Linked DNA regions of Homo sapiens. The protein of the gene in region 1 interacts with the protein of each later gene in a biochemical or structural test. Each region holds a gene or a part of one and is shown in the gene's direction. Other genes may lie near its edges. The genes, in order: KCNIP3, GRK2 and CREM.

What was found.
Region 2: the proteins of KCNIP3 (region 1) and GRK2 form a complex in vitro, tested with the Homo sapiens proteins (one study listed by BioGRID).
Region 3: the proteins of KCNIP3 (region 1) and CREM form a complex in vitro, tested with the Homo sapiens proteins (one study listed by BioGRID).

Annotation. Positions count from the first base shown.
Region 1 is NC_000002.12:95,300,156-95,307,759, forward strand, and holds part of KCNIP3 (calsenilin), read left to right. Parts: intron 1-7,604. UniProt on the Homo sapiens protein: Calcium-dependent transcriptional repressor that binds to the DRE element of genes including PDYN and FOS. Affinity for DNA is reduced upon binding to calcium and enhanced by binding to magnesium. Seems to be involved in nociception.
Region 2 is NC_000011.10:67,268,896-67,276,499, forward strand, and holds part of GRK2 (beta-adrenergic receptor kinase 1), read left to right. Parts: intron 1-7,604. UniProt on the Homo sapiens protein: Specifically phosphorylates the agonist-occupied form of the beta-adrenergic and closely related receptors, probably inducing a desensitization of them. Key regulator of LPAR1 signaling.
Region 3 is NC_000010.11:35,178,463-35,186,066, forward strand, and holds part of CREM (cAMP-responsive element modulator), read left to right. Parts: intron 1-409; exon of another isoform or gene 410-426; coding exon 427-524; intron 525-671; coding exon 672-814; coding exon of another isoform or gene 815-867; exon of another isoform or gene 868-1,385; intron 1,386-7,604.

The DNA of each region.
Region 1 (7,604 bases):
CGGCCGGTGGTCTGTTGTGCCCTCTGAGCCCTCCAGTGAGTGCACACAAGCCAGACTCCACCTGGCCGCATCCCCTGCGTTAGCCACGTGACCTGGAGCTAGCTGCCTCCCATTTTTGGACTGTGGATCCAGAGCTAGGAAGTAAAGGACCCCAACATTTTAAATTCAGGCTGCCTTGTCTTATCAAGACCTTCTGTGTGAGGCAGGGAACTGCTTTACTGACTTAGCAGAGGGGCCTTAGAGCCCCCCTGCCCTCCCCAGCCCACCCCTGGGCATCCCAGTGACTTCCAGGAGCAGCCAATGTGGCTTCTGCACGGAAGAAAGCACTCTCAGTTTCCAAGGTGAAGCAGAAGAGGGGAGAGAAGTTAGCACGTCTTTCTGGCCTAGTGCCCAGACCTGGGGCAGGCAGGAGCCTGAGAGTCGGGGGAGGGCACAGCATGGGGCGAGTCCCGTGCTGCTTCCTGCCCAGGGCTCCCGGCCTCAGCTGACTGATGTTGCCTTTGAGCAGGTGCGTCTGTCATCTGAGATCAGCCCATGCCTTAGAAGGCCAAAGAGCAGCCCTGTGGCAGGGAAAGAAGCAAGGGGACCTGCAGAGTTGGAGAGGGAGCAGCTGAGCTGAGACGGGAGGGCAGCGTGGGGGTGGCGTGTCCCACACTAGAGTCGGCCCAGCCTCCCCCTCTGACCTGCCACCTCAGCTCTCTGCCCAGCATGCCCTCTCCATCAGCCTGGCCATGCCTGGGCCAGGCTCAGCCAGGAAAAGCAGCTGCTGGTCTTTTCTGGCCTCACCTCCCAGCCTGCCCAACGCCCCCAGCCTTCCCCAGCCTTTATCACATGGACAGTAGGCAGATGCCAGGGTAGGCAAGGGACAAGTCCCCTGCATCCCAGTCCTCTGCTGCTGGTGCCACATGCCCCTGTGCCCAGCTCTGTCGTGGGATCCTCTCTCAAGATGGGCACTCTGGACAGTGCTCCAGAGAACCAAACTGTAGCCCCACCTCTGCCCCACTGACTCAGGGCCTCAGTCTTCCCATCTGGGTCTGAGAGATGCTCACAGCATCTGCCAGGCCTTGTGATGAGCAGTGCAGGGCTGGGAGGCACGGGCCTGGCTGACTCAAGTCAGGGCCACTGCCAGCAGTGCCCCACATGTGCACACAAATGTCCATGGGTCTTGCGCAGAGCCCTGATCCTCACTGTGCGGGACTAAAGGACCCCGGGCAGGAGACAGGCATGGCCAAGAGGCATCATGGCTGTGCCTTGTTGGCTGTGAGCCCTGACTGCACCAGCAGACCTGGGCTCAGTCCAGGCCCTGTCACACACTGGCTGTGTGTCCTCTGACAGGTTACTTAGCTCATCTGTGCCACTGTGTCCTCATTTTCCTGGGGGAAGTATGAATATCACAGAACCCCCAGATAAATGTGATCCTATACCAACCAGCTTGGCCTGGCCCCTGGCACAGAGTGAGGCCTCCACACATGAAGGGAATACCTATGCCATCCCTTCTGACTGTTGAGGAGAGCCTGGGAAGGCCACCAAGAGGCAATTTGGCCATGGGCAACTCAAGTTCACCCCTGGGTTAACGTGACACCCTCACTGCCAGGCAGCATGGGGAGCTTGTCCTTGTCAAGGTGGCAGCCATCAGAGCAGGGGTGGACAGCCCAGCTCTCCTGCTCCAGTGCTGCCAGAGGGCTGGGGCCCAGGGCTGTGTGTGTGTGTGTGTGTGTGTGCGCGCTCATAGGTGTGTTTGCAGGCATGTGTACGTGTGTGTGTATGTGCATATGTGCACACATGCATCTTCAGGGACTCATGACAACCTCGGCTCCCCCGACAAGGCGAGCTGCCTTGCCTATGTCTGTCTGTGCCCAGGGGTGGGTGGAGAATCCAGGCTCCCCAAAGCTTCCCCATTCCATACCCTGGGGCCTGCACGACACAACGCCCACCACTGCTTCCTGCCATCTGTCCCGAGTGATGGAAATAGAGCCAGTGACAGCAAGCAGTGCTGGGTGGGCCAGTCTGCACCGCAGCAGCCGTGGACAGGGTGGGGGGTGGGGAGCCCCACATCTGAGTAGCCTGGATGTCTCATGCTGGCCCTGGCCTCGGTGAAGCCCTTCCGGAAAGGAAGGGGGTGAGAATCGGGGGACCCCCTTTGCCTTTCAGGCAAGGCCAAGAATTTTCTATCTGGAGGGACAGACACTCTAAACAAATTCCCCAAGCTGCATTTTCAGATCTATTGAGGAGCTTTATAAGAACAGAGTAGCCCAGCCCTCTCTGCATCAAACAATCCAGCTCCTGGGCAGGCAGATGGTGAGAGCCTCCCCACGTGATTCTGGCATGTGGCAGCTGAGAGCGGCACATTGGGCCTCCCTGCCAGGCATGCTAGGCTGTGGGTTTGGACAGCCAGACCCTCCCTGGGATCAGAAGGGCGAGGAACACTGACTCTCCCCCACTGGGGGCTTTGTCACCTTGCCTTCCCCTTAACCCTGTGAGGGCACATTGTCACCCCCATTTTGCAGATGAGTAAACTGAGGCTCGGAGCTGTCAGGTTCTCTGTCAGGGTCACCGAGCTGGGAAGCGAGGGTGCGGGATTCATGTAACTGGTTGGCCACAGACCCCTCCCACTGTCCTCGGCTGCTGGAAATCACATCCACCTGCCTTCGATCTCCTGCCCTGCCCCCAACTAGCCGTGCCCTCTGAGCCCACACCCAGGGGCCCTGGTGGCACATACGAAGCCACTCACTTCTGTTTTGCATCCGTTAAGTCTGTAGACATCTGGGAGGAGTCAGCGATGCATCTTGCCCATGCATGTACTCCTAGAACGCCACCCGGGAGCCTGGATACTTTAACGCAGGTTTTCCAGGACCCCCACTTCTCACAGGCTGTCATGTGCCCCCCAGTCACCTCTGCCACATCTGCTCTGGAAGGCTTTCTGGGAGTTTCTCTGGAGCACAGTTGATGAGAACCATGGAGACTGAACTAGCGGCTCGAGGGTTTCACCTTGGCACACTCCTGACAGTCTGACTCCATCTTCTCAGCCAGATGGGCCTCCTCAAGACGAAGCTGTGCCATGCTGGGCATGGGGCAAGGAGTGGGACGCTGCTCCGTGGGCCACCTGGCCTCTCAGGGGACCTAGAGTGTAGGGAGCCACGAGGCAAAATGTCCGGTCCAGGTCCTGGAGGTTTGTTCCAAGTGCTCAGCCTCTGTCTGTGGTGTGGAAACTCTCGGGATGATGGTGTGGTGTTTGCGGCAGAGACTGGACTGTGTTCAGGGGGAGAGGAAGGCATGGGGGACAGCCCTGCCTCCTACATTCCCGCAGTGACAGTTTTCTCAGGCACTGGGAAGTCGCCGCCCCTCCCTCACTGGCCACATCTAGAGTAGGTCCTGAGTACCTGTCTCCATAATATCCCCAGCACCCAGCCATGACCTCCGCCTGGCTCAGCCTTCCCCCGCTCTCCTGGGCCTGGGCATCCCTCGCCTCCCCCAGATGGCCGCCTGCCTCATCGAACCCCCAATCTGATCTGCACATTCCACCAGGCCACCCTTCTGAGGCAGCTGCGAGTCCAGCTGGACTTGAGTGGCAGAGAGCAGCTGGGGCGGCTGTGCCCTGCCAGGAGGATGCTGCCCCAAGCCTGCCGGCTGGCAGGTCTGAGAACCATCCGGATCAGTCCTGTCCAATAGAGACATGATGCAAGCCACAGATGTCACTTAAAATGTGCCAGTAGGCACAGTAAAGAAAGAAAAAAAGGTTAAATTATTTTAACCATATGTTTTATTAAACCCAGTGTAAATGATTATCATTTCAACCTGCAATTGATATAAAGCATTTTTAATGAACTATTTGATAGTCTAGTAAGTAAATGTTTGGAACCCAGTGTGTGTTTACACGAGGGCACGTCTCAGTGTGGACCAGCCACATGTCAGTCTCAGCAGCCTGGCGAGAGGCCGCCGTCACTCAGACTTGAGGGGTCGCCTGGCTGAGTCGAGCAAGCCCCCAGCCTCAGCCACAGAGAGAAACATACACTTCCTGCCTTTACCGTTTTGCTGTATCTGTTGTGACCTGTGCTATTGTTTCTTATTATTTTTCTTTAAATTAACTCATGCATTGAATTTTAGTGAATTCATTTAAAAGGGAATCTTTAAATCAGTACTGTAAGTGGGAAGCCGGGAGCAGAAGTGGAAGGTAACCACCACATTGCCATGAAATAAGGCAGCAGCGATAAACTCCCACCCATGGTCTGTGGCCTGTTGAGGCTCTGAGCTGAGGCCGTGCCCTCCCTTTGTAAAGAGAATGGCAGTGGGGAGCTGGAGAGTGTGCTGGCCCCGAGTCTAAGTCATCTCCTGCACCTCGTAGGTGCAGCTCCCCACTGCCAGAGACCTCAGGCCAAAGCCCCCAGGACGCAGCTGACTCAGAACAGGCTGGGTTTACCCCTGTTGAATAACAGGAGAACGCATACCCCAGGGACCCTGGCAAGCTGCATGAGAACGGGTGAGCTAGAATCCATTACCGGATTTGGGGCTCAGTTGGGTGCTTTGGGTAATTTTGAGGTTCTAAGGAACCTCAAAAAGTTGGTGTGACCATTAAATATGATAACCCCTCCAAACAACTAACTCAGCACCAGCACACAGCAGGGGCATCACCCACGCCATCTTTTTCCATCCCTCCCTGGCTCCCCACAGGCCAGGAGGACTTAGAAGGAAGTTGAGGCCTGGTCCTGGCCTGCCTGGCTGGGCAGGAGCTACAGATCTCGGCCACCAGGTGACTGGCAGAGAATGGCCTGCCTGGCTCACCAGCAGCCTCTATCCTTCAGGGAAACTTGTGACCTTTGAGAAGGCTGCAGGTCCCCAGGGCCAGCCTAGGGCCGTTTCTGGGACACAGCCCTAAATGCCCACACTGCCAAGTATGCCACCAGGGACTCTGCCTGAACCCAGGGCCCAGATCTTCTGGCTTCACTCGTCTCTGCCACTCAACCCTGGCCATCCTCTAAAGCTGGTAGACAATGACAGTTCTGTCACCCATTAAAATGAGGCCGGCATCGAGCAGGAGTGGGAGGAGAGAGCCCCAGGTGAATTGTGAAGAGCACAGGGGACTTTTGATCATTCGTGAATATTTATTCAGAGCCTTGTGCATGCTTGCGTTTTTAACACCTTCTTTTTGGGTGCATGAGAGTATTTTTTGATGGAAATCTTTATTGAGCTCGTTGTAGATTCACATGCAGTTGCAGGAGCTCACAAAGAGGGCCCATGTACACTTAACCTGGTTTCCCCAATGACAGCATATTTCAAAACTACAACACAATAGCACAACTGGAGTGTCTGCAATGATGCAACCCACCAGTCCTAGTCCGATTTCCCAGTTCACACGCACTCATTTCCGTGTGCATTTTTTGCTACAATTTTTATCACGTGTAGGTTCAGGCACTCAACAGCACCATCAAGATGCAAAACAGCTCTGTCCCCTCAAGGCCCCTCCTGCCGCCCTGTGAGAGCCACACCCCTCTCCCTCCTGCCTGCCTCCCCCCATCCTTAACCCCTGGCCCTCTAATCTGTTCTCCATTTCTAAAACTTTGTCATTTTACAATGTTATATAAATAGAATCACACAGAATGTGACCTTTTGGGTTGGCTTTTTCATTCAGCGTAATTCTCTGGAGGTTCACGCAGGTGTGGTGTGCGCCAACAGTTTGTTTGTTTTACTTGTCCAGAATTCCGTGGTATGGATGCACTGGAGTTTGTTTAATCATTCACCCATTGAAGGGCATTGGGTTGCTTCCAGTATGGGGCCGTTCCAAGTAAAGCTGCCATGAACATTTGTGTACATGTTTTCACTTGAACATAACTTTTCGTTTCTTCAGGATAAACGGCCAAAAATACCGTGGTCGGGCTCTGTGGTAGCGCATGCCTAGTTTTTATAGGAAGCTGCCAGACTGTTCTCCAGAGTGGCTAAGGCGTTTTCCCTTTCCACCGACAATGGAGGGGTGATTCCGTTTCTCCACATCCTCACCAGCTTTCAGTTGTCATTATCTTTGGTTCTAGCTGTTCGGACAGGCACATGGTGGTGTCTCACAGCGGTCCTCCTCTGCGTTGCCAGAATGGCTAATGACGGCGAACATCTCTTCCCGCCGCCTTTGCCATCCACGTGTCCTCTCTGGTGAAATGTCTGTGCATGTCTTTCACATTTTCTAACCTGATGGTTTGCTCTTTTACTGTTGAGTTTTGGGAGTGAGGATCTCTTGGGTGCCAGGCTGTGTCACGAGGAAAAGCAGGTCACATGAGGATCAGGTTCCACTCTCGCAGAGCTGATGCGCTAAAGGGGAGAGACAGAAAACACAATAATAGGATCAGTTCACAAGGGCTGGGTGAAGAAGTGCTGAGATGGAGGTGCATGGGGGAGGGTGGCCTAGGTAGTCAGGCAGGGCTCTTCTAGGACCTGAGCCGTGAGTGAGGCCTTAAACGCCTGGGGCAGAAGTGTCCAGTGCCAGGAGCAGCAGGTGCCAAGGCGGTGGTGTGGGAGCAGACTTGGAGGGGCACGGTGGGGCTGTCAGGGCCTGGCAAGGAGGCACTGGGGCTCCCGGCAGGGTTGGGGCATCTAATTCATGTTCCATCTCATCACTGCCCCAGCTTCTCTCCCAGCACCAAGGCACTGTGGGGTGAGGGGCCAGGGGGCCGCCTCTTAGGACGCCCTCCCTTCCATGCTGTGAGCCTCCCAAGCCAGCAGGAGGGTGCCTGGGCTGCTATTTAACATTCCCTGACAGCTCAGTCAGACCCTCTTCCAGACAGACAAGTGTCAGATATTCATGAGGATGACCTCCTCCCGCCTCCCCAGCAGCCTGAGGGCCCAGGCCGCAGCCTGATGAGTCCCAGCTTCCCAGGCTCGGCTGCTGGGGTCTCCCTGCCCTCCTGTCCCTGGCCCTCCCCTCCCTTCTCTTCTCAGAACCCACCCCCTGCCTCACAAAGAGGGGTGCCCATCATGGGCCTGCCTTGTGGGGCTCACAGGTGGGATTCTGGCCCCTCAGCCAGATGGAGGAGCCTGGCCCGGAACCCCCACCACCACTCCACCCAGACTCTCTCCACAGGGAGAAAAGACACACTGGGGCCCCCTAGCCCAGGAGGGCATCACAGCACTCCTCAACGGATATTTTTGGAAGGCTGCTGATGTGCCTGAGGGGCTTCGGAACACACCCAGCTCCAGAGACCGCCCCAGGGACCCAGGCCGAGAAACAGCCTCAGCAGCAAAGCCTGTGGTCAAGCCCATGTGAACTTTGGAATCAGAAGACTATATGTGTAGTGTGGCCCTGGCATGTCCCAAAACTTCTCAGGGAATTAGTTTCCTCATCTGTGAAATGGGGATCGTCTTACCGATTGCAGGGGGTTGTCGTGACGAGATTACTTTCAGCTCAACATAGACATCCACTTGGGAGGTGCTCAGCCTGCCCTTTGGGCTCACCCAGCCTTCCCGGGAGGACTGAGCCCTGTGAGCTAGAACCCAGGACACCCATGGGATCTCCCGCACGACCTGGGCCTGGGGCTTCAAGACAGAATCCCTGTGACTAACCCTGGGCCCCGAGAAGCAGCCTTGCCAGCCAAGCCAGTGCTGTTCTGAGATGGGCTGCAGAC
Region 2 (7,604 bases), on another chromosome or scaffold:
AGTCCTGAGCAGAAACAAGGTTGGATAGGATTCTAGGAGGACAGCAGGAGGCCGAGCCAGGCAGCCCAGGTTTTCACATTGGGTCACCATCAGCAGCATGGCCTTCCGCAAATCGCCCACATCTGTGAAACGGACTGGAGGTGCGAGCGCCGAATGTCAGTGCGCTAAGGCCTGGGAAGGGCTACTGGCCACCCCTACATGGGGGTCCAGGCCTGGGGCATTAGGGAGCAGGCCACCCTTTGCATAACGCCTTGCCTTGCACACCCAGTGGGGCAGAGCACGCCGCCCCCCGCCCCCCGCCGCCCCAGTGGTGATCCTGACCATGTTTCATGTTTGCCTGACACTTTTCCACTTGCAGAGTGCTTTTTACTCTGTTTTGTCCTTTTGACAACTGTGAGAGGCAGGCCCAGCAGTTAGGATTCTCCCCTTTAGCAGTTGAAGTTATTGAGGCTCAGGGAGGGGAGGAGTCGTGTCCTCGTCACAGAAGAAAGCTGGAATGGGGCCTCGGGTTTCTGGACCACACAGGCCAGTGCTGTTTCTTTGCTGTGCTTTATCCCCTCCACCCACCCCTGCACACCACTGTTCTCGCCTCTGTCCACATTTTGCGGTGTGGGCTGACTGGCACCCCTTGTCTGGGGCCATCGGCTGTCACAGTTCACAAGGCTCAGCCCTCTTCCCGTTGGCTGGGATGGAGAACTGAGCTGCCGTGGCAAAGCTACTGCACCGAGGGGCAGCCCCACTCCAGGGTCCCGTCAGATGCAGGAGCCTGTCTTCCCCATACCCACAAGGTCAAGGTCAGAGTCAGGGAGAGGGGCTGTGGCTTGTCCCAGTGACAGGTTGCCACTGGGAATTGTTCATACCTTGAGGTGGCCCACCTTGGCAGCCCCTCCATGGCTGGTGCCTGGGGATGTGTCTTGGCCAAGAACTGGGGCTGGCATCACAGCTCTGAGTTCCAAAGGCTAGGGAATGGGAGTGGTTAGGCACAGTGCCACACTGAGTTGGCACAGGGGCCTCCCCTTCTGTCACCCTATAGAATCCAAGGAAACAGTCCCTTTCCCCGACCTTCTTGTAGAAGGAGGTAGCGTAAGGCAGCATTGTGTATCTGGAAGATGGGAGGTCTGGCTTCTCCCTCTACCACCAGCTCACATGGGACCCAGGCGAGTCCCTTAGCCCGACTGGACCTGCCTCAGTTTCCACCTCTGTAAAACGAGGCGGCTGCCCCTTCACTCTCAGGGTCTGTGGTCTGGGCCTTGCCCTGAAGGAACTGCTGTCTCCCTTTCCCAGCAGCCAGCAGTCTTGTAATTATCATCATTTGCTTAATATGACCACTGAGGCCTCGTGTAATTAATCTCTGGGCTCCTAGCTGAGGAGCCCTGCCTGGGCGCTCCCAGGAGGTTCCTCTGCCCTCCCCGGTGACAGTGGCAGCCCCAGCAGCAGATTGTCGGAGCTGGGTGCCTCTTGCAGCCTCCCGATTTCTTGGCTGTTTCCTGGTCCCTCCCCCACCGAGAGTTTCCTCCTTCCTGCCCCTTTCTGGCTTCCCTGTCTCCCCAGACCCTGCCCCTGTTCCTCCGCTGCCTCGTTCCTGTTAACTCTTCGCAGCCAGAACTTCCTGCCCTCGATTTGTGGGGGAAGGGGTGCAGCGGGAAGCTCTCTCCCTCCCTCCTTCCTTCACTCCTGCAGCACCAGCTGAAACCCTGCTGCTTCCAGCCTTTGTCCCTTACCCAGAACTTTCCACTTCAGTGGCAGCGTTCTCCCAACTCCTTTCCCTGCAAACAAGATGATCTTTCCTGCAGTCACTCCCTCTGGGCCTTTGAAGCACCGCCGTTCCCCAGGAATGGGTCTCTGGGATGTCTTTCCCGTCTGTTTTCCTTTCCAGAGCATGCGTTTCACTTATTTGCCATTAAGTCGCCCGCCTGCCGTTACCTGGGTAAATGGATTTGAAGGGAGTGTGAGCAATGCAGGTTGGAATCTGTGCAGGGGAACCTGGGCTGTTAACCCAGAATGAGGTGTCCTATTAATGCACAATCAATTCCTAGTAGTAAGTTCCCGGTGACGTCAGGTACAGGAGCGCTCCGCAGCCAGTGTTTCCTCCCCGTGCCTAGGTTGCACCCAGGTGGGCTTGGCAGAGGGACTGAGTGCTCAGGCTGGTGGGTTTGGGCTCCACGCGCTTGGCTGTTGCTTTCAGGGTATGCTCTTGCCTCGGAACACACAGTGGGAACCAAAAGCACAGTGTAGCCCTTGAGGATGCACAGCCTCCCTCACACCTGCCCCTTCTTCCTGGGCCCCTTCCCTACTCCCCGCCGGCTCCCCATGGGTCAGTTTCCACTGCTGGATGGAGCTATATTCACGTTATTTCTACTCTGCTGCAACTGAGATACTAAAAATGAGGTGTTTGACTGCAGCTTTTTTCTAAAACAGTAATATCCCTTCTCTGCTTTGCTGTTTACTGCAAAAGGACGCGTCTATGCTGGCAGAAGTGGGTTTTCTGGTATTAACATGTTGGCAGCTCTGTTCCCAGGTGGGGGCAATTTTCTGACTCTAGAGCCATTTCGTGTTTGGGATGGGGGATAACCCCCTCCTGGAAACCACAGGGCATGGAATTCTGGAAGTTTGTTCTTGGTGCATTCTAGCGTAATGCAGATTACGGTCTCCATGTCAGCAGTAAATTGCAGGGTGTGGGTGCTCATGTCATATTTGTGAAGAAGCCGTGACATTTGACAAGGCCGCCAGAGTGCCTCTTCCTGAGCATCCCCGCAAGGGAGCTGCTTTGTGGCCGACACGACGTTCCGGAGCCCAGGCTGCTGCAGACCCTGGCTGTGTGTGCGGGGCCAGCTGGCTTTTTCTCTCCCCTGCTCAGGGCTTACCTTGGACCTGCCGGTTTGGGCTGGCCTTTCCTATTTGATCTGTGGCCCCGTCCTTGTTCGCCCCAGGGAGAGTCATTGAGAAACATTAAGAAGCCCCAGGGGACTTCCTTCTGCTGCTGGCACCTTGGTGTCTGGTTTCCTGGAAATGCCACAGGGAGCACCTCGGCCACAGCCACAGGCCCTGCTGCACTGGTTGGTGAATGCTCGCTCATCTCCCAGGGGACGGTTCCCAGAGTGGCCGCACCAGACCTGCCAGGCCTGTAGCCTTCATGCCAGCTTGCACCGTCCTGGCGTGGCAAAGCTTTAGCATCACTGTCACATGAGGGGCACAGGAAGCATGGCCCCTGGCTGCCAGCTGCCAGCCAAGGCTGCCTCCCATCCTGGGTTCCAGGGAAGGGGGCTGCTCGTCTCCTACAGCTCCTGGTCAGGGACGGGAGGGCAGCCAGGCCAGAGGCTGGGCACAAGTCAGGGTCCTCTGAGCCCTGCACCCAGCTCTTCCACAGAGGTCAAGGGGGGGATGGAGGGTGCTCTAGTGGAGGCCGTTTCTCAGGGAGCCTTTGGACATTTTCTTTGCCACGAACTCATTGTGGGCCTCGGAGCACGTGGCCCAGCCAGCTTCCTTGCCATCAGCAAGAGTGTGTTTGTCTCTGACTTGTCACCCCCTCCTGTCCACACAGCTACAGCCTCTGACCCCGAGCAGGAGACACCTAAGAGAGCCCAGGCCACAGAGGATGGCCTGGACTTTGCATTTCTTCTGAACCATGAGGTGCCAGAAGGGACCGGAAGTGCTCCCTCAGCACCCACTCCTTCCCTGTCACCCAGTGCTCAGTGCTGCAGCTGCTCACTGTCTTGGGCTGAGCCTGCTCCGGGAGCAGTAGGAGCTGGTGCAGGCCGCTGTAACTGCAGGGGTGCCAAGGTGGGACTGACTGCTCCTTCCCAAAGCTGGGTGGGCACCAAGTACCTCTGTGCCAAGGAGCCCTTGATACTTTGGCAGGGCAAGCCACGGGCTCTACCCACTGGGCCCGCAGTAGAGCAATGCAGTGCCTGAAGCTGGTCTGTGAGCAGAGGAGTCCCACCCTGCTCGGCTCAGCCCTGGCCACAGGCCCCATCCTCCAAGGCCCCATCCTCTCCGAGGACACGGCAAATGTGGAGCAGAGGCTTGAGCAAGACCAGTTACTGTGTGATTCTAGCATGGACTGTCGGTGAGCCGTGGGGCACTGAGAAATGGGGCTCTGGCGGCTCTCTCCCATGGCCCAGCAGGCGGGGCACGGCGGGCAGCATGGCCAGCCTGGCATATTAGAAGCCCTCCTTCTGCCGTGTCCACCCAGGCTTTGTAAATGGCCAGTGTGACGGTGGCGATTCAGCATCTCATTGACATCCTCATTTTACAGCTGGGGAAACTGGACATTTCAAGTTTGTGACCAGGTGGTGAGGGCCACTTGGAACCCAGGCACCCGTCCAACGGCCAGAGCAAAGGCAACTCTGAGGCCCTTGCCCAAAGGTGTTGGGAACCTTAGCGTCCTTCCATCTGGGACTGTTGAGGCCGCTTGGTTCTCCTGATGCTCCAGAGTAGATCTTGGGAGCCACGTTCCCCCGGATCTCAGGGTTGCTGACCTGGGTGGGGGACAGGGACACGCTCTGGGCTCACTGCCACTCCAGACTCTGCCAGTATCAGGGAGCAGTGTTGGAGACAAGGTGACCCAGTCCAGGAGGCTGTCCCACCCCTGTGCTCGCCCGTGCTTGCCACCCTGGCAGGAGCTGCCCCCAGTGGCAAGTTCTTCCAACCTGCCAGTTCCCTTGGCGGCCAGACCCATGGGAATAGACAGGAAACCCTAAAATTGCCACTTTGGGGGCCTTCCATTCAAGGACTCTGCTCAGGCCTGACCTCGTGTTTGGTTTCTTGCTTGGGGGGAGGGGGGTTGTTTATTTTATTTAAAAAACATTTTTTTCTTTTTAAGGAAGAAAGTGGAGTGCTGTGGGCTGGGAAGAATGTGGTGGCCATGCCCAGGCGTGGCTGCTGAGGGGAGAGATGGCCTCAGAGCCCCGGGTCCTGCTTCCTGCTGTTCCCAGGCCGGGGCTGACAGCAGAGCCCCTGGGAAGGAGAAAGGGCCTGCCCGGCAGGTTCCCCTGGCTGTCGCAGGCAGGGAACCAAGCATGCTTCCCCCTTGGAGACTTTGTGTGTCCAGTTGAAAAGTGGCAGTGGCTACTCCCTGGCTCCTAGGTGGCCATTCCCTCTGCCAAACTGGCACCTTTTTTTTTTTTTTTTTTTTTGAGACAGAGTCTCACTCTGTCACCCAGGCTGGAGTGCAGTGGCACGATTTTGGCTCACTGCAACCTCTGTCTCCAGGGTTCAAGCGATTCTTCTGCCTCAGTCTCCTGAGTAGCTGGGACTACAGGCGCACGCCACCATGCTGGGCTAATTTTTGTATTTTCAGTAGAGACGGGGTTTCACCATGTTGGTCAGGCTGGTCTTAAACTCCTGACCTCATGATTCGCCCGCCTCGGCCTCCCAAAGTGCTGGGATTACAGGCGTGAGCCACCGCGTCCCGCCAAGCTGGCACCATTTTTGCAGGCTCCTAAGAAGCAAGTCTGGGGCTCAGTGGGGCTTACTGCTGAAGCCCGGTGGCCCCCATTCCTGGGACAATGCCCGGCTCCTGGTGGGTGACCCCTACAGGCTGGGATTGCTTTGCCTGTCATCTGCATCTGCCTGTCGCTACCTTCCGCTTGACCAGCACCTTTTTTTTTTTTTTTTTTTTTTTTTTTGCTTTTTTTCATCCCCTTCTGTGGACCAAAATGTCCTGGCCCACCTCCCAGGTGAGATGCAGGCCCCTGACCTTGGGGTTTTCTCCACGTTCCAGTCTCCCAGTGCACAGCCTGTGCCCTGAGGGTCGCCCAGGGCCCAGGCCTCCTGTCTGCAGGTGCCAAGGGCAGGGACCGTGTCTTTCTCAATTCAAGAGATTTTTATGAAGCCCTTGCTGTGTGTGAAACACCACAATCTCCGTCCACCGTTTCCTGTGTCCCTGGGAGTCCCACATGCCGGGAAACATGTCCTTGACGGTGGCTGGTGGACATGAGCTGGCGTGTGGCCCGAAGGGGCGGGTGTGCTGGTGTGGACGCGGGGCCCATCCTCGGAGCTCCTGTCAGTTCTCAGAGGGCATCCTCACTCCCCGGTGGGGGGCATGGGCCCCCCTCTTCCCATCCAGGCAGGGTCTGTTCCAAAGCAGTCATAGGATGCGAACTCAGGGTCACCTAGGCCCATCCTTGTCTTCAGTGCCCTGCTTCCTGCTGGAGACAACTTTGGAAGAGGCCGCGGCCCCTCCCAGCCTCTGAGGGTGGGGAGCAGGCCAGGGGGTCGCGGCCTTGGAACCGTGCTCATGGCAGCCCTGCTGTGCTCGTGCTATCTCGCTCGGCCTTTCCTGAGGAAGGCTGGAACCAAGTGAGATCAGGGGCCGAGGCCCGGGAGTCCACTGCAGCCCTTCCTGGAAGGACAGTGCCCAGTGGAAGCGGATAAGAGCCCCCTCTCGAGGCCGAGGTCAGAGGCCAGGCAGGGTCCACAGGCCAGGTCCGCACTGTCTGGAGCTGCTCTCCGCAGACGGCTCTTCTGGCTGAAGCTGCCATTCTTCCAGACCCTCGGGCCCAAAGCCTGGAAGCCCTCACGGGGCTGGCCTCATAACCCTTCTCCCGGTCCCCGACAGCCTGAGCCTTCTCCCACCCACCCCCTTCCCCTTCTTCCTGCCCAAGTGTTGCCTCTGCCTGGGCTTCCTCCGCGTGGCGCCTCCAGTGGAGTCGGGCCACCCACCGCCCTGGACCAAGCCTCCTGAGTCCTGCTCTCCTGCCCACTCCTTGGCTGTGAAGCCCCCTGGTTTGCAAGGCCCTGCCCTCCGCCTCACCATGGCCTTTGTGTGCCCTCTCTCCTGCCCCATTGGCCCCTTGCTCATCCCTGGACATACTGTCCCCTGCCTGTTCCCACGTCTACCGACCCCCCTGGCTTCGCCAGCTGCCGAGATCCCACTTGCACTCCAGGAACCCAGTGGAGTTCCACCTTCTCCACACAGGCTTTCCAGACCCAGAGGCCTCCTCTCCTTCCCAAGGCTTCTGCACACGCTGTCTGGTATCACAGGCTCAGAACCATGCCCTGGGCAGGGCTGTTTGGAGCAGGGGGTGGCTTTGGCATGAGGTACACAGTGCCTCAGGGGTAGATGTGCAGCGGGTCCTCGTGACCACAGCCTGGGTGGCCAGTCCGACCAGCCCTGGGCTGGGCTCCTAGGGGCAGGCAGGGCCGGGGTGCAGAAAGGCAGGGGCCATGGCAAGCACAGAGAACCTGGACTTGCGGATCCAAATCTCCACCAGCTGCAGTCATTTCACGGGAGGCCTGCTGGTGGCCCCATAGACCTGCAGGGCCATGTGAGCGTGACATGGGCTCAGGTGTGTTGTCCCTTCAGGCCCCCAGCCTTGCAATGCCCTCAGCATGGCAGCTACACGTTACCCCAGGAGCCCAGACTAGTGAGGACCAGATGCAGGCCTCAGCTGGCTGTTGGGACAGACCGGCAGGGCTGGGCTTGAGGTGGGCCAGGAGAGGGCAGGAGGGGACAGTAAGGTGGTATTTGAGGCCGGGAGTGTAGCCTGGTGTGGCGCTCCCAGACAGCACTCAGTGTGGGGTGAGATAAACAGGGTGGGGGATGTCGGGTTGGGTTTTGAGGGTCACAATGGCCAGGCCCTCCCCTATGGCCATACCAAGCA
Region 3 (7,604 bases), on another chromosome or scaffold:
CTGTGAGAGTGTGGGAACAGCAGTGTGATCCGGGAGCTCTCTTCTGCGTTGGCCCCTCGCTGGCTCCCTCCTGGATTCGTAGGAGCACTTTCAGGTTGAGGAGCTTAGGTCTTGGGTATTTTACATTTTGTTCTTTCCTGCAATGCCTCATTTGACATCCCAACCACTCTTTCCCTAGTATTTCTGTAGTATAGAGTACCCGTAACATTCCTTTCCACACACATTTGTTTTATAACTGAAATGTTTGCGTCTGCGCTTCCTTTCTTGAGCCAGACTCCTTCAGTGCAGATTCACTGTGTTCTATTGCTCAGTTGCTTCCACAGCTCCTGGCTCAGTGCTGCACACACAGACTCTTAGCCTCAATTTTTTGAATGAGGGAAAAGAGCATATATTTTATGATACATTTCAGAAAATCTTGTATTATAGGTAGCAGCAATTGCAGAGACAGATGAATCTGCAGAATCAGAAGGTGTAATTGATTCTCATAAACGTAGAGAAATCCTTTCACGAAGACCCTCTTATAGGTAAGTTAACCAAGTTTCCTAATGTAAAGATACTTTTTCCAAAATGGTAGAATAATTATACATCAAATCAATTCTTCCTTTATAGCTTTTCTGTTTTAAGACTTATTCATGTATCTTAGTGACTTACCTTGTTAAATTGTATTTTAGGAAAATACTGAATGAACTGTCCTCTGATGTGCCTGGTGTTCCCAAGATTGAAGAAGAGAGATCAGAGGAAGAAGGAACACCACCTAGTATTGCTACCATGGCAGTACCAACTAGCATATATCAGACTAGCACGGGGCAATACAGTATGTATGCTGCAATTCGATATGATACAGTGCTAGCTTTAAGTCTTCTCTAGTTATATTGAAGCAACTCAGGTTTTGGCATTAAATTGTTCCATTTTAAAATGCATCATTAATACCTAAACTGTATCATAGAATGAAAGTATATGTTAAAAAGTGAGATCTTTGTATTGACAGCTGTCATATAATTTTGAAAAGTAAAAATTTTGACTGCCGAATATAGAAGAAAATTTTGGGGTAAAAAGGAGAATTTTTCCTATTTACATGTTTATATTAATCTCTAGTAAAACATTGTTTTTGTTGTCTTTATGATGCATGCGAACATAAATGTCTGTATTTCATTCTTGTTGGCTTTTGTTACCCACAATTACATACTATTCTTACTAATCTGAGAGTTTTCTAAAGTATGTTTTCAATGTTTCACTACTCTCTACTCTGTTAATTTGTGCTACAGTTTTTCCTAAAAGAGAATGGAAAAATGATTTAATTTTTTAAACTGTAGCAATTGGATAGATAATTTTATTTGAAATTTTACACACTGAAAGCTCTAAATAAACAGATACATTCACATTCAGTCTTGTGCATTTTAATGGACCGTTAATTCTGTGCTTTTTGCTCTGATTAAAGCACTAGTTTTTTTCCCAAAAGAAGAGTGTTTGATACGTAAAAAGCAAGAGCTAGAAAGAAAAGAAAAAGGAGGAGAAAGGTTAGGGATATCACATATCCTAAGCTAGCCCCTTAGGTACTGGAATAATGTGATATTCCTGTCCTTTCTGAAGTATAAATTGTCCATGGAAGTTGTCTAAATCAATTTCCCATGTAATTATAATATGAAGTAAAGTGAGTTTTGTAAACTCTGCTACCCTAGGTCCTCAAAGTAATTGAACAAATATATTGACAGCAGTCATGTTGTTGAAGAGATTCATAATTTTAGTTTTCTGACTTTAAAAAGAGCTACTTAGGTACTGGAATATATGTGATATTAAATAATGTGTTTATCCAAATAAGGTATTAAGATTTTAGATATATTCTTTGTTTTTCCTTTAAAAAGTAGCAATACCAAGAAAAAAAAACTCAAGTCTTAATTTAAGTCCTGACTACTAAAACAAGCTATAATCTTTAATGTATGAGAAGACTTTATATAGTCATTATTTTTGTGGAGCTTTTTAGAGTTTTTCTTGTAGCAGTGGTAGATTTGCAGTAGTAAACTATTAAATACATTCTCTGTTGGTAATTGAGGGGAACTCCTACCATGATACCTAGCAGATCCGGGGTGTAGTGTATTCACACGTTTGACAGGGCACCCAGTAGACTTGTCCAAAGTCAGTGTTAGGAAAAGAAAATCCCCACCATCTGTAAGAAATAGACCTTGAGGTTTACATTGTCATTTTTTTATTACTTCTCTCGTTTACATGCTCTTTTGTCTGGCACACTGGGAATCTCTGGTGGGTTTTAGAACTGTAAAACTGAATATGCCAGCTGATGAGCCTCTACAGCACAGCACGCAGGTTATGAGAGTGCTGAGTGCCTCGTCCCCCCGTCCCCAGAGGGGCTGGGCAGAAGCTGCTGGCGCCTCCTGGCTGGTCAGCCCTGGCCTTGAGCAGCTCCATCCACTCACCCCAGTGGGCTGTACACATGTCATCATGTTCTGTTTGTGTAATGACAGGGAAAAGGTTGGAAGTGACTGCTGAAATGACACTAAGACTTCTCAAAGTGTTGGGAACCACTAAGATGCTGTCATCGTAACATTTCTCTGGCATATGCTAATGCTACTTAGGACTTCTGATAGAAGCAGTGATTCCTTTACAAGTTGATAGGGAAGCAGATGCTGTAGGGTTAACTTGTCTAGATTATTAGCTGAAAATTTGAAATTGTGAAAATGTATGGGGTTGAAGCTGGAGAGGATGTGGAAGGAACCATCTTTGTGCCATTTGCAAACTCAATGATCAGAGCAAGAAGCTTTATTAAATTCACATCTCAGGTTTTAGTCTTTGAAGTGGGAATAATACTAAATTGCCAAACTCTGGGGTTCCTGTGAAGACAAAGGAGATAATGGGTAAAAGTAGGGGGAAAAAGACATGCTACTATTGGCATGAAACAGAGAAATTAAGTTAGGTGTACCATTGTCTCATTCATGTTCATTGAACTTTCCCTCCAGCCAGCCCCAATGGCTTCATTCCCTGTGTCCTTGGTACCTGCTCACAGCAGGGGGCTGGCCTTAAACCTCACTCTGTGTGTCTGTGGGGGGGATGAGAGGAGCAGAGTCAGGAATTTTGGTTGAGAACTAGAAAACTGCATCTGTAGAAATTAGATCTTAGGCCAGGTGTGATGGCTCCCACCTGTAATCCCAGCACTTTGGGAGGTCTAGGCAATGAGGGTTGCTTGAGGCCAGGACTTTGAGACCAGTCTGGGCAATAGAGTGAGACCCTGTCTCTACAAAAGAATTTTAAAAATTAGCAGGGTGTGGTGGTATGCGCTCATCCCAGCTACTCAGGAGGCTGAGGTGGGAGGATTCTCTGAGCCCAGGAGTTTGAGGCTGCAGTGAGTTATGATTGCACCACTGCACTGTCCAACCTGGGCAGCAGAGTGAGACTCTGTCTCAAAACAACAAACAAAAAAAACACATCTGTCTATTTGCCACATAAGAGGTCATGGACTATTTCTTACTTTGGTTTCTTAATTTGAGTCTATACAGTATGATCCTAGAAATTATTCTGATGAGAAGTTATAGTTCTGTATGTACAGTCTGCAGGTAAAAATTGCCATTTGTTCACACAATGTGAATTTCTTTTGTTAAAAATGCATTTTGGGGACATTTAGTGAAATATATGTAGATAATTCTTTGAGAAGTGAATACTAACAACATTCAAACTTTTTAGAAGACGTTTACTTTAATTGGAGGGTAAACATACTTACACACACAACATCCATTTTTATTGATCTTATTTTTTATAGAACTAACTTAGCAGATATTAATGCTTTAATGTTGTAGCAGAATGTCTAGAAATGGAAACAATTGCCAGTTTCCTTTGGTTTTTGAATAGAGGAACGTATTTTATTAGAATTTCTGGAGATTTTCCTATTTTTTTCCTTCCCTTTGAGCTGTAAATTTTTTTTAATGCTCTTTCATAACCTTTTATTATAAAAAAAAATTTTAGGTTTAATTGTTCAGCTTTTATCCATGGATGGCTTTCTCCCAAACTTTGCTTTTATTTCTTTTTTTCCAATATTTTATTAGTTATTTTTAATTTGGAATAATGAGTTAGCTGGTGTTTAAAAGAACTAAATGTGTATCAAAGTTGAAGAAATAAAGTATATTCAAGTTTTCCCATATACAAGCAGTTACATTTTTAATAGTTGAAAGATATTTGGCAGAAGTTGGCCTTATTATATTGACTTACTATTATCACAAAAACTAAAAAGTGAAAGTTGGAATAGGCTGCTCCCTGGGGAGTAGGAAAAAGCATAAAATAGACAGGGATCCATTATTACAACACCAAGTAAGTGAGCTGTACCTGCAGAATCCTCACTGGAAGTACAGATCTTAGTGATAGGTGTGTTGCATAACAGTTGAGCTGGTCGAAGAAAGTCTTTTATTTCAGAAGCATATACCCGAGAGATGGCGGGAGAGAGACAGCCTTAGAATTAACAAAGAATGTTACTTGCTGCATGAGACAGTTAAGATAGGCAGTAAATGAGTGAATTTGTAAAAGCAACCGAGGAAATTAAAATGTTTGAAGCTTCCTAATTCATTAAATTTCCTCTTGAAACAAAGGTTACTTAAATCCTCCATCCTACTATACCCAACCTCTTCCTGTACCAATTAAAGACTATCACCCAAGACTTCAGTTTTTTTCCCACAAATGGCCCTTGTCTCTGCTTGTGCCTATTGTATTTTACGAGGAATCTTATTAGAGTATTAACTCATCTTTCTGGAATTCTTATACATGAAAGGTAAGTGGGTCAATCTAAACTGCACCATTATGAAAAGAAAAATATGAACTTTGTGGACTCCTTATAAGAATTCAGAATTCTCAGGAGGCTCACGAATAAGCACCAATTCAACTTCTTCATAAAGGGAATTAGAACATAATAGGCTTACACATTCGAAAGTTAATCCAGTTGCAGTTCTTAATAGTGACGTTGTTTACATTTCTCTAAGGCAACTGTTTCAAAATTTTTTAAGGCACTACTTAATGTAACTCTGGCTTTTAAACTTTGATGTTGCTATTGTTGTTATAGCATGATTTAGTCTTCCTTCTGCTATAATGCACCTCTTGGCTTTTAAGGTACAAGTACTCATAGGTGCTCTCTTATGGTCACTCTGAATTTAAACCTGAGAATTCATTGGAACAAAGGTCTGTTTGCTGCTGTTTTTAAAGTTAATGCAGTGAGATTTCATTTATGAATCTTTGGATTGCAATTTGGAACAAGAGTGGTTTTAAATATAAACATTTACATGTGTATGTATTTTAATTAGCTCATGTGTATAAATTTAGGATTAGAAGTATATAACATGGGCCGGGCGTGATGGTTCACGCCTGTAATCCCAGCACTTTGGGAGGCTGAGGTGGGCGGATCACCTGAGGTCAGGCATTCGAGACCAGCCTGGCCAACATGGTGAAACCCCATCTCTACTGAAAATACAAAATTAGCCGGGTGTGGTGGTGCACACTTGTAATCCCAGCTACTTTGGAGGCTGAGGCAGGAGAATCGCTTGAACCCAGCAGGTGGAGGTTGCAGTGAGCTGAGATCACACGATTGCACTTCAGCCTGGGCGAGAAGAGTGAAAGTCCATCTCAAAATAAATGAACAAATAAATAAATAAGAAGTGTATAACATCGCCAGGCTTGGTGGTTTGTGCCTGTAGTCCCAGCTACTCAGAAGGCTGAGGCAGAAGGATTGCTTGAGCCTAGCAGTTTAAGACCAGCTAGACCAATATCAGGATGTGGGGCAACACAGCAAGACCCCATCTCTTAAATAAATAGCTAAAATAGAAGATATGTCTAAATTCATTCAGTTAATTTCATCTTATTTTTTCTATCTTGATTTATGTTTATTGAAAGCACATGTTATGCTATCCTTGACTATTTTGAAACCTAAACAGTTTTCTCCTCAAATCTCTGAATACAGACAGGCCCACGTAAAACCTATTTCCAGGATCCTGAGGCACTGGGAAATTTTGTTTATTGTCAGATGAGAGAGAACATTTTCAATGGGAAGGTCCTCTGTCATTTGATAACAACAAAATCAAGAGCACCTTTGGCATAAAAATGAAAATGAGGCTGACGTGCCTGACTTAATCAGTAGAAATGTTTTCTCACTAGAGCCAGTGTGTGAGGGGTGTGTGTGTGTGTTTGTTTAGCTTTTGTTTTCCATATCTAATTATATAATGACTTCCCCAGAAAATAAAATGAGAAACAGATTCTTGATGTGTCAGCTGTTCATATTGTGAAAACAAAGTTTTTTGATCAGAACTGTGGGGAAACATTACTGAAAAGAAAAAAGGAAACGAGTAAAGCAAAAAGAAAGAGAAAAAAGGAAGTAAAGGTCTTTGTTATCTACCTATTTAGGGGTTCTTACCCTGAGGCAGCTACTCTCACCTCAGATTGACTTGATCGTTATTTAAAAGCTTGATAATTTGGTGTTGAAAAACTAGGTTCTATGATTGGAATTTGAAACCATACCTCATTTAACTCTCCTAGATTCACAGGGGGCTTAAGTTTTTTATAATATCATCTGTCATGAGGAAATGATAGCCATTCATTCATTCATTCATTCATTCATTCATTCTATTTTTTGAGTGGCTGCTCTGTTCTAGGCTTTGTACTTCTTTTTTTTTTTTTTTTGAGACGGAGTTTTGCTCTTGTCCAGGCTGGTGTGCAATGGTGCAATCTCTGCTCACCGCAACCCCCGCCTCCCAGATTCAAGCGATTCTCCTCCCTCAGCCTCCCGAGGAGCTGGGATTGCAGGCATGCACCACCACGCCTGGCTAATTTCTTGTATTTTTAGTAGGGACGGGGTTTCTCCTTGTTGGTCAGGCTGGTCTTGAACTCCTGACCTCAGGTGATCCACCAACCTCGGCCTCCCAAAGTGCTGGGATTACAGATGTGAGCCACCGCGCCCGGCCTAGGCTTTGTACTTCTAATACACTGTGGTTACCTGACCTTGGGCTGCTCTTTCTAAAGCACTATTTCTGTGACATCAAACTAATTATCAACTGAAAAATACACATTCAAATATATGAAAACATACACAATTTACTCATGTCTAGCCACAAGGGGCCAAGAAAGCAGTGTCTTTTGACATTTTCATACTTGTAAGAAGTTAGTTAGATCTCTCTCAAACCCTTTTACTATGAGGGCTGAATCCTGAGACCCATGAAATCTTTGGAAAGCCATGGTTTAAAAATACCCTGTTTTTAAAGTGTGTACAGAAAATAACTGCTCTAGGTGAGCCAGATAAAGTGCTGTTACATCAGGGTGTCTCAACCTCAGTTCTATTGACATTCTGTAACTGACTCTTCAGTTTCTGCCACACTGGCCTGTCAGTGAAATAAAACACAGAGAACGCAGCATGTGGAAGTCTTTTTAAAAATGTTAATCTATCTTCCTGTGTAGACACTGGCACCTTAGGTGAAAGAAGTGAAAATTTGTTGTTGTTACTCTTTCCATAATTCTCATAGGTTTGTCCTATCAGGTTATCGCCTAAGTGCTTTTTTGCCTAGATGCCTTTAAAAACGTTTGGAAATGACTTGAAAATATTCAGAGTGTATTTTAAACACTACTGTTAC